Homo sapiens: one gene and its partner. The protein of the gene in region 2 purifies or fractionates together with the protein of the main gene of each other region. This does not show direct contact. Each region holds a gene or a part of one and is shown on either strand. Other genes may lie near its edges.

The links.
Region 1: the proteins of SBNO1 (region 2) and RBM25 fractionate together in Homo sapiens (co-fractionation; one large-scale study listed by BioGRID). This does not show direct contact.

The regions. Positions count from the first base shown.
Region 1 is NC_000014.9:73,061,381-73,065,201, reverse strand, and holds part of RBM25 (RNA-binding protein 25), read right to left. Parts: intron 231-3,821; exon of another isoform or gene 109-230; intron 1-108. UniProt on the Homo sapiens protein: RNA-binding protein that acts as a regulator of alternative pre-mRNA splicing. Involved in apoptotic cell death through the regulation of the apoptotic factor BCL2L1 isoform expression.
Region 2 is NC_000012.12:123,326,768-123,330,588, reverse strand, and holds part of SBNO1 (protein strawberry notch homolog 1), read left to right. Parts: intron 1-79; coding exon 80-170; intron 171-1,693; coding exon 1,694-1,855; intron 1,856-2,561; coding exon 2,562-2,697; intron 2,698-2,776; coding exon 2,777-2,882; intron 2,883-3,009; coding exon 3,010-3,163; intron 3,164-3,821. UniProt on the Homo sapiens protein: Plays a crucial role in the regulation of neural stem cells (NSCs) proliferation. Enhances the phosphorylation of GSK3B through the PI3K-Akt signaling pathway, thereby upregulating the Wnt/beta-catenin signaling pathway and promoting the proliferation of NSCs.

The DNA of each region.
Region 1 (3,821 bases), on a different chromosome or scaffold from region 2:
GCCGAGATCGCGCCACTGCACTCTAGCCTGGGTGACACAGTGAGACTCTGTCTCAAAAGAAAACAAACAAACAAACAAACAAAATTAGCCAGGTGTGGTGGTGCGCACCTGTAATCCCAGCTACTCTGGAAGGTGAGGCAGGAGAATTGCTTGAACCTGGGAGGCAGATGTTGCAGTGAGCCGAGGTCGCGCCACTGCACTCCAACCTGAACGACAGAGTAAGACTCCGTCTAAAAAAAAAAAAAAAGTAAAACTCTATATTCTTGGTATTTAAGTTATATTTTATGGTTTTTAAATGTGTAATTCATTCTGCAGAGTTAACCAGATATATTTAATTTTCGTTTATGCCAATATACCCATTCCATTCACTTCAAATTTTTCCATAACATATTCCCCTTTATTTGGAGCTGCCAAAACTTGCTTGTTGATAGGCTGGACTTCAAAGGTGAAGGCAAAAATACCAGTTAACAGCTAATTTTTATGGATATTCCTTTAAGATAACTGGCCTCTCCTGGGCGCGGTGGCTCACATCTGTAATCCCAGCACTTTGGGAGGCTGAGGCGGGCGGATCACAAGGTCAGGAGTTCGAGGCCAGACTGGCCAACATGGTGAAAGCCCGTCTCTATTAAAAATACAAAAATTAGCCAGGAATGGTGGTAGGCGCCCGTAGTCCCAGCTACTCGGGAGACTGAGGCAGGAGAATTGCTTAAACCTGGGAGGCAGAGGTTGCAGTGAGCTGGGACCGCGCCACTGCACTCCAACCTGGGTGACAGAGCGAGACTCCATTTCAAAACAAAAATAAAAAAGATTGGTCTCTCATGGAAAATCAGAAAACATTTCTCATCTTTGATAAATACTAATGTCCACTTTAAGCAGCCTAAAAGATTACCAACTACTTATTTCAACACAGGTTTATGTGTTTTGCCATGTGAAACTGATTGAGAATTAACTTTCATAATCATAAGCAAAGCTTATCTGTTACCTATAGATGATAAACAAAATAAATTATAATACATTGAAAGATGGTATGTACTTTGTAGAAAAATAAATTAGGGAAGAGAGCTATGGAGTAGTTTATTTTAAATACAGCGATTAGGCCTCACCAAGAAGGTGAAGATTAGAACAAAGATTTAAAAGAGGCAGAGGCAGGAAGCCCTATTCATATCTGGGGGAAAGAGACTTCCAAGCAAAGGAAAAGACAAATACAAAGAGGCTGAAGCAGGAATGGTGTATTTGAGGGAGGAATAGCAAGGCCAACAGTATGACTGGAGCAGAATAAATGAAGAAAATCAGAAATAAATACTGAGTATTATGAGTAGAGTGTAGGGCTATGTAACACAATGTAAATAAACATTTTAGTTTTAACTCTGAATGAGGTGAAAATCATTTGAAGAGTTTCTGACTTGTCACATTTTAACAGTATCACTGGCCACTGTGTTAAGCCTGGAAGGGAACAGGATACAAGCAAGAGACTGGTACAATAATCCATATAAGAGATGGTAGCCTGGAGAGATGGTGGCCTGGAACAGGTGGTAGTGGTGAAAGTGCTATCAAGTTGTTGGATCCTGGATATATTTTGAAGGCAGCCAATAGGATTTGCTGAGGGATTGTATAATATGTGGGATTTAAAAGAGAGAAATGCAGAGTTATCTTATGGCACTGAAATCATTTCCATAGCATTTTTTAAAATATTGAAAGTACCTCACATTTTAGAAGGTTCAAAGCACCTTTTCCTGCTAAGTATGAAACTCCGGGCCGGGCGCGGTGGCTCAAGCCTGTAATCCCAGCACTTTGGGAGGCCGAGGTGGGTGGATCACGAAGTCAGGAGATCGAGACCATCCTGGCTAACACAGTGAAATCTCGTCTCTACTAAAAATACAAAAATTTAGCCGGGCATAGTGGCAGGCGCCTGTAGTCCCAGCTACTCGGGAGGCTGAGGCAGGAGAATGGCGTGAACCCGGGAGGCGGAGCTTGCAGTGAGCAGAGATTGTGCCACTGCACTCCAGCCTGGGCGACAGAGCCAGACTCCATCTCAAAAAAAAGAAACTCTATAGCCCACGATAATAAAAACAGGAACCTGGGCCAGGTGCAGTGGCTCATACCTGTAATCCCGGCGTTTTGGGAGGCCAAGGCATGCAGATCACTTGAGCTCAGGAGTTCAAGACCAGCCTGGGCGACATGGTGAAACCCCATCTCTACCAAAAATACAAAAAATTAGCCAGGTGTGGTAGCATGCACCTGTGGTCCCAGATACTCAGGAGGCTGAGATGGGAGAATCGCTTGAGCCCGGGAGGTGGAGGTTGCAATGAGCCGAGCTCACACCACTGCACTCAAGCCTGGGCGACAGAGTGAGGCCCCCCAAAAATTAAATAAAATAACAGAAACCTATGATAGAAGGGTTCCCTACCTCTAGTGTAGCGGTGGTCACACAAGTATATGCATTTGTCTAAACTCATTGAAATTAAAACAGATGCATTTTATTGTATGCAAATTTTATCTCAAGAAATCTGGTCCAAAAAGAAACCCTGAAGACATATCTCTAGTACTCAACATATGCATGCACTCAGCTTTTCTTTTTTCACTTTTTTCTCTTTGAATCTTTCAAACTATTTTTTTCTGCACTCTTAAGAATACTGCAAGTATGCAAAATACAGCAAAACACTGCTAATAAGCATTCCTCTATTGTAGACTTATCCAGATAGAAACAAAATTATTTCTCCCAGGATAGATTATTTTAGACTAGCTCCATCAGTACACTACGTGCCAAATTTCTGAAATGATAATGAACTGAGATTCCTCTGAGCAAATATTCACATACAACTCACTCATTCATTCAATATCTACTTCCAATTATGTGTCAGGTCTGCAGGAATTATTCCTAGAAAAAAAAAAGTGTTTTATGCCCAAAGAAGAATGGGAAATGCTTAACAGAAAAACTACTTTTACAGCAAAGCTTTTCAGAAGTATGAAAATACTCAATTGTTTGGAAATCTCCAAAAAAGAGTTGATCTTTTTCTGACATTGCCACTTTTGTTGTTTTACCATTTTCAATGATTAAAGAGCAACACTCCTGTGCCTGCCTATAGTCACAGCTACGCAGGAGGATCACTTGAGCCCTGGAGTTCTGGGCTGCAGCACGCTACTGATCAGGTGTTCATGCTAAGTCCATTCAGCATTAATATGGTGACCTCCTGGGATGAGAGAGAACCACCAGGTTGCCAACAGAGAAGGGCAAAACTCCCAAACTGATCAATAGTGGGATTACGCCTGTGAATAGCCACTGCACTCCAGCCTGAGCAACACAGGAAGAATTCATCTTTTTAAAAACAAAAACAAGGCTGGGCACAGTGGCTCATACCTGTAATCCCAGCACTTTGGGAGGACGAGGCAGGTGGATCCTTTGAGCCTGAGTTCCAGACCCGCCTGGGCAACATGGTGAAACCCCATCTCTACCAAAAATACAAAAAAATAGCCAGGCATGGTGGCGTGCACCTGTGGTCCCAGCTACTTGGGAGGCTGGGGTGGGAGGATTGCTTAAGCCTGAAATGCGGAAGTTGCAGTGAGCCAAGATCGCAGCACTGCCCTCCACCTGGGTGAAAGAGACCCCATCTCAAAAACCAAATAAAACAAAAAAGCAGCGCTATCTACTACTATCTATACAGAAAAATGAGGGCTTGCCTGAAACTGGGGTGGAACAGGGTGACTTGCAAACAGACAGAAGGAATCCTTTTGGGGTAATGGATGCATAACTTTGTATATTTACCAAAAATCATTGAATTGTGCACTTACAGGTGAATTTTCTATGTCAATATAGTTCATAT
Region 2 (3,821 bases):
CCTGGCTTTATTAATTTTATTCCTGAATTCTAGAATGATATAATTTGTATTTAATTTGTGCTTTTTAATATTTTGGCAGGTTTAGTGTTTCAAATGACTTAAAGTATGATGCTGAAAGAGATTTAAGGGATATTGGAGCAAAAAACATTTTGGTTCATTCGTTAAATAAGGTATGAAATCTTTTTATTCAGTTGGTCATTCAATAAATATTGACTCATCTGTGAGATGACAATAATAATAGCTATGTATATAAGGGGACACTTTTTGGAAAACTTTGATGTTACTCCACAGAAAGCATAGTGAGTGCTAGCCACTATTGTTGGTTTGTGGATTCCTATATGCTAAACACTGACAGGCAGTAGCCACTCATCACATGTGGCTATTGAACAGTGTAAGTGACCAGTCCAAATTGAGATGTGCTCTCAAGTGTACAGTGCACACCAGTTGATTCTCTCAATTTTCAGTGTTATTTTTATCTTTCTTTTATAGTTTATATGCCATAAGGGTGCAGTTTAGACAGGTGGCATACCTTGCACTATAGGTCACCAAATCATATGCGATGTAGATAGTTATGGCTTGGGCAGACTGGTTTCAGTATTTGTACAGCTAATGGACTTGAGTTACTCATACCTCTGCTCACATGAAAACAATTCTGTAAGCTGAAAGACAATGTGTGCCAGTGTGTTTTAGAATGTTAAGGTTCAGTTAGCAAATCTTTATTGACTTACTATGCATGCACCAATTGTTGGTGCTATAAGGTTAAAATAGACTGATAGGGTTCCTGGAAGGGCCTCCCTAGTAGCCCTTTGAAAATAAGTAACTGCACCTCTACTTCCCATGTGAGTCCTAAGTTGAATTCAGTGTTGCCCTAAACAGTGGCTTGTTAGGGTGGGTTTTACTGGGTGGATTTGTAGCTATAAAGTACTGTGTCTTGAATGACTGTATACAATTCAGAACTAAAAGGATGTAAGTGGCATCTAGAATTTTTTTTTTAAATTTCAGAGTAGTATTAGAAAGGCACATTAACAATTACTCATAATTCTTATGTATCAGAAATTAATCACAGTGTTTTGCATATAGTAAGTGCACAATAAATGTTTGTAAATTGTGACTTTTTATTCTTATAGGGAAGTTTGTCTGGTTTTTAATGTTTTTTTTTGTGATGATAAAAGTTTTTAAGACTTTGAAAACTGGATTTAAAAAAAAAAAAAAAAGATCTCAGCTCTGTTGCCCAGGCTGAAGTGCAGTGGCACAATCTCGGCTCACTGCAACCTCCATCTCCCAGGCTCAAGCAGTTCTCCCACCTCAGCCCCTGTGGTAGCTGGGACTGCAGACACGCACCACGATGCCTGGCTAATTTTTGTATTTTTTGTAGGGATGGGGTTTCACTATGTTGGCCAGGCTGGTCTTGGAACTCCTGAGCTCAAGCGATCCACCCACCTTGACCTCCCAAAGTGTTGGGATTACAGGTGTGAGCCACTGTGTCCTACCAAAAACTGGATTTTTGTACTATAAAGTTGTGTGTTTGTGTTGTGTACATTTATACAAATAAATTTGCGTCTCTGTACTTTTATGTTTTCTGAAGCCTGTCATGGGCCTAACAAGAGTTCCTGCTTGTGAATGTTTAGTTGGGATGAATGTTGCAGAGAGAAAGGTATACTAATTAACTAAATTCTTTTCTTTTCTTTTTTAGTTTAAATACGGAAAAATTTCTTCCAAACATAATGGGAGTGTGAAAAAGGGTGTTATTTTTGCTACTTACTCTTCACTTATTGGTGAAAGCCAGTCTGGCGGCAAGTATAAAACTAGGTTAAAACAACTTCTGCATTGGTGCGGTGATGACTTCGATGGAGTGGTATCCTTTATGGCAAATATTTTTCTATTTTTTAACGACAAGAAAATTATAAAAGGGTAGACCTTTGGGAAACAGGAATCTTGAGATTAAACGAGTTGCTGGAGTGAAAACTTTAATGATTACCTAGAGTCCAAAGGGATTGGAAAGTTGATTCGGTTTTTTACCTGTCAGATAGGAGACCAATGTTTAATCTCCTGGTTTAGAAAAATGTTAATAGATATGAGGAATACTGAATACTGTATTCCCCTTTTGAGGATTAACATTGCATATTTACATAGCAGAATACCCGAGAAGACTAAGTGAAAGAAAACTGTTAGAACTTAGTGGTCCCAAACTTGTTCACAGTATATCTTTTAACTGTCCTGCATGAGGAACATCACTTTTTGAAATGCTGATTAAGTTGGTTACCAATCATGCTTCTACTTTTACAAGTTACCAGATAACAACTTCTTGCTGCAGTGGGTTCTTTTCTCTGTTTTAATTTAGAGGCAAATTGCTGGTTTAAATTCCAAATTCAGTGAATGTCTTTGAGGCTAGAGAGGGAGGAGGATGTAACTGGGGAAAGGCCCATAGGACTTCCTTTGTATTTGCAGTCATGAAATAGGCAATCAGAAGGCCTCAGGGAAATAAAAGTTAACTCTTCTTGAAAGACTGGAGATTCTTACTTAATACTAATGTGATACATTCCTTAACTCATTCCATTTAGATAGTGTTTGATGAGTGTCATAAAGCCAAAAACTTATGTCCTGTTGGTTCTTCAAAGCCAACCAAGACAGGCTTAGCAGTTTTAGAGCTTCAGAACAAATTGCCAAAAGCCAGAGTTGTTTATGCTAGTGCAACTGGTGAGTATTTATTTATTTAAAAATATATATTGTAGGTTATTTTTTCAACTATAATATATTTCATTTGTGGGATTTTCAGGTGCTTCTGAACCACGCAACATGGCCTATATGAACCGTCTTGGCATATGGGGTGAGGGTACTCCATTTAGAGAATTCAGTGATTTTATTCAAGCAGTAGAACGGAGGTAATGCAGTTTACGGTATATACTCTTCTCAGTAGCAATCTAAGAAGTGTGTTATTCCTAAAGCCCATTCTCTGTATGTTAAAATTCTACTGTATTGGTAATTACTGTATGTTTTAATTTTATTCAGAGGAGTTGGTGCCATGGAAATAGTTGCTATGGATATGAAGCTTAGAGGAATGTACATTGCTCGACAACTGAGCTTTACTGGAGTGACCTTCAAAATTGAGGAAGTTCTTCTTTCTCAGAGCTACGTTAAAATGTATAACAAAGCTGTCAAGCTGGTGAGGAATTTTTCTTAATTCCTAGTGTTTATTTAATGTATCTGATAATGTTTCTGTTAGTTTTGGCGATTGCGATGCCTCCTGCCCATGGGAATGTATTTCTACTATAAAACAACAGATGAAGCCAGGCACGGTGTCTCATGCCTCAGCACTTTGGGAGGCTGAGGCGAGCAGGTCACCTGAGGTCAAGAGTTCAAGACCAGCCTGGCCTACATGTTGAAACCTCATCTCTACTAAAAATACGAAAAAAAATTAGCTGGGCATGGTGGTGTGCGCCTGTAGTGCCAGCTACTTGGGGAGGCTGAGGCAGGAGAATCGCTTGAACCCAGGAGGCGGAGGTTGCTGTGAGCCAAGATGGTGCCAGTGCACTCCAGCTTGGGTAACAGAGGGATACTCCATCGCAAAACAAAAACAAAAACAAAAAACAAAAACAAACAGATGAGTTACCAGATGATAGGCTGTTTAACCAATGTGTTTTTTTTTGTTTTTGTTTTTAATTGAAGCAGGGTCTTACTCTGTCACCCAGACTGGAGTACAGTGGTGTGATCTTGGCTTACTGCAACCTCTACCTCCCAGGTTCAAGGAGTCCTCCAGACTCTGCCTCCTGAGTATCAGGGACTGCAGGCGCATGTCAATGTGCCTGGCTGATTTTTGTATT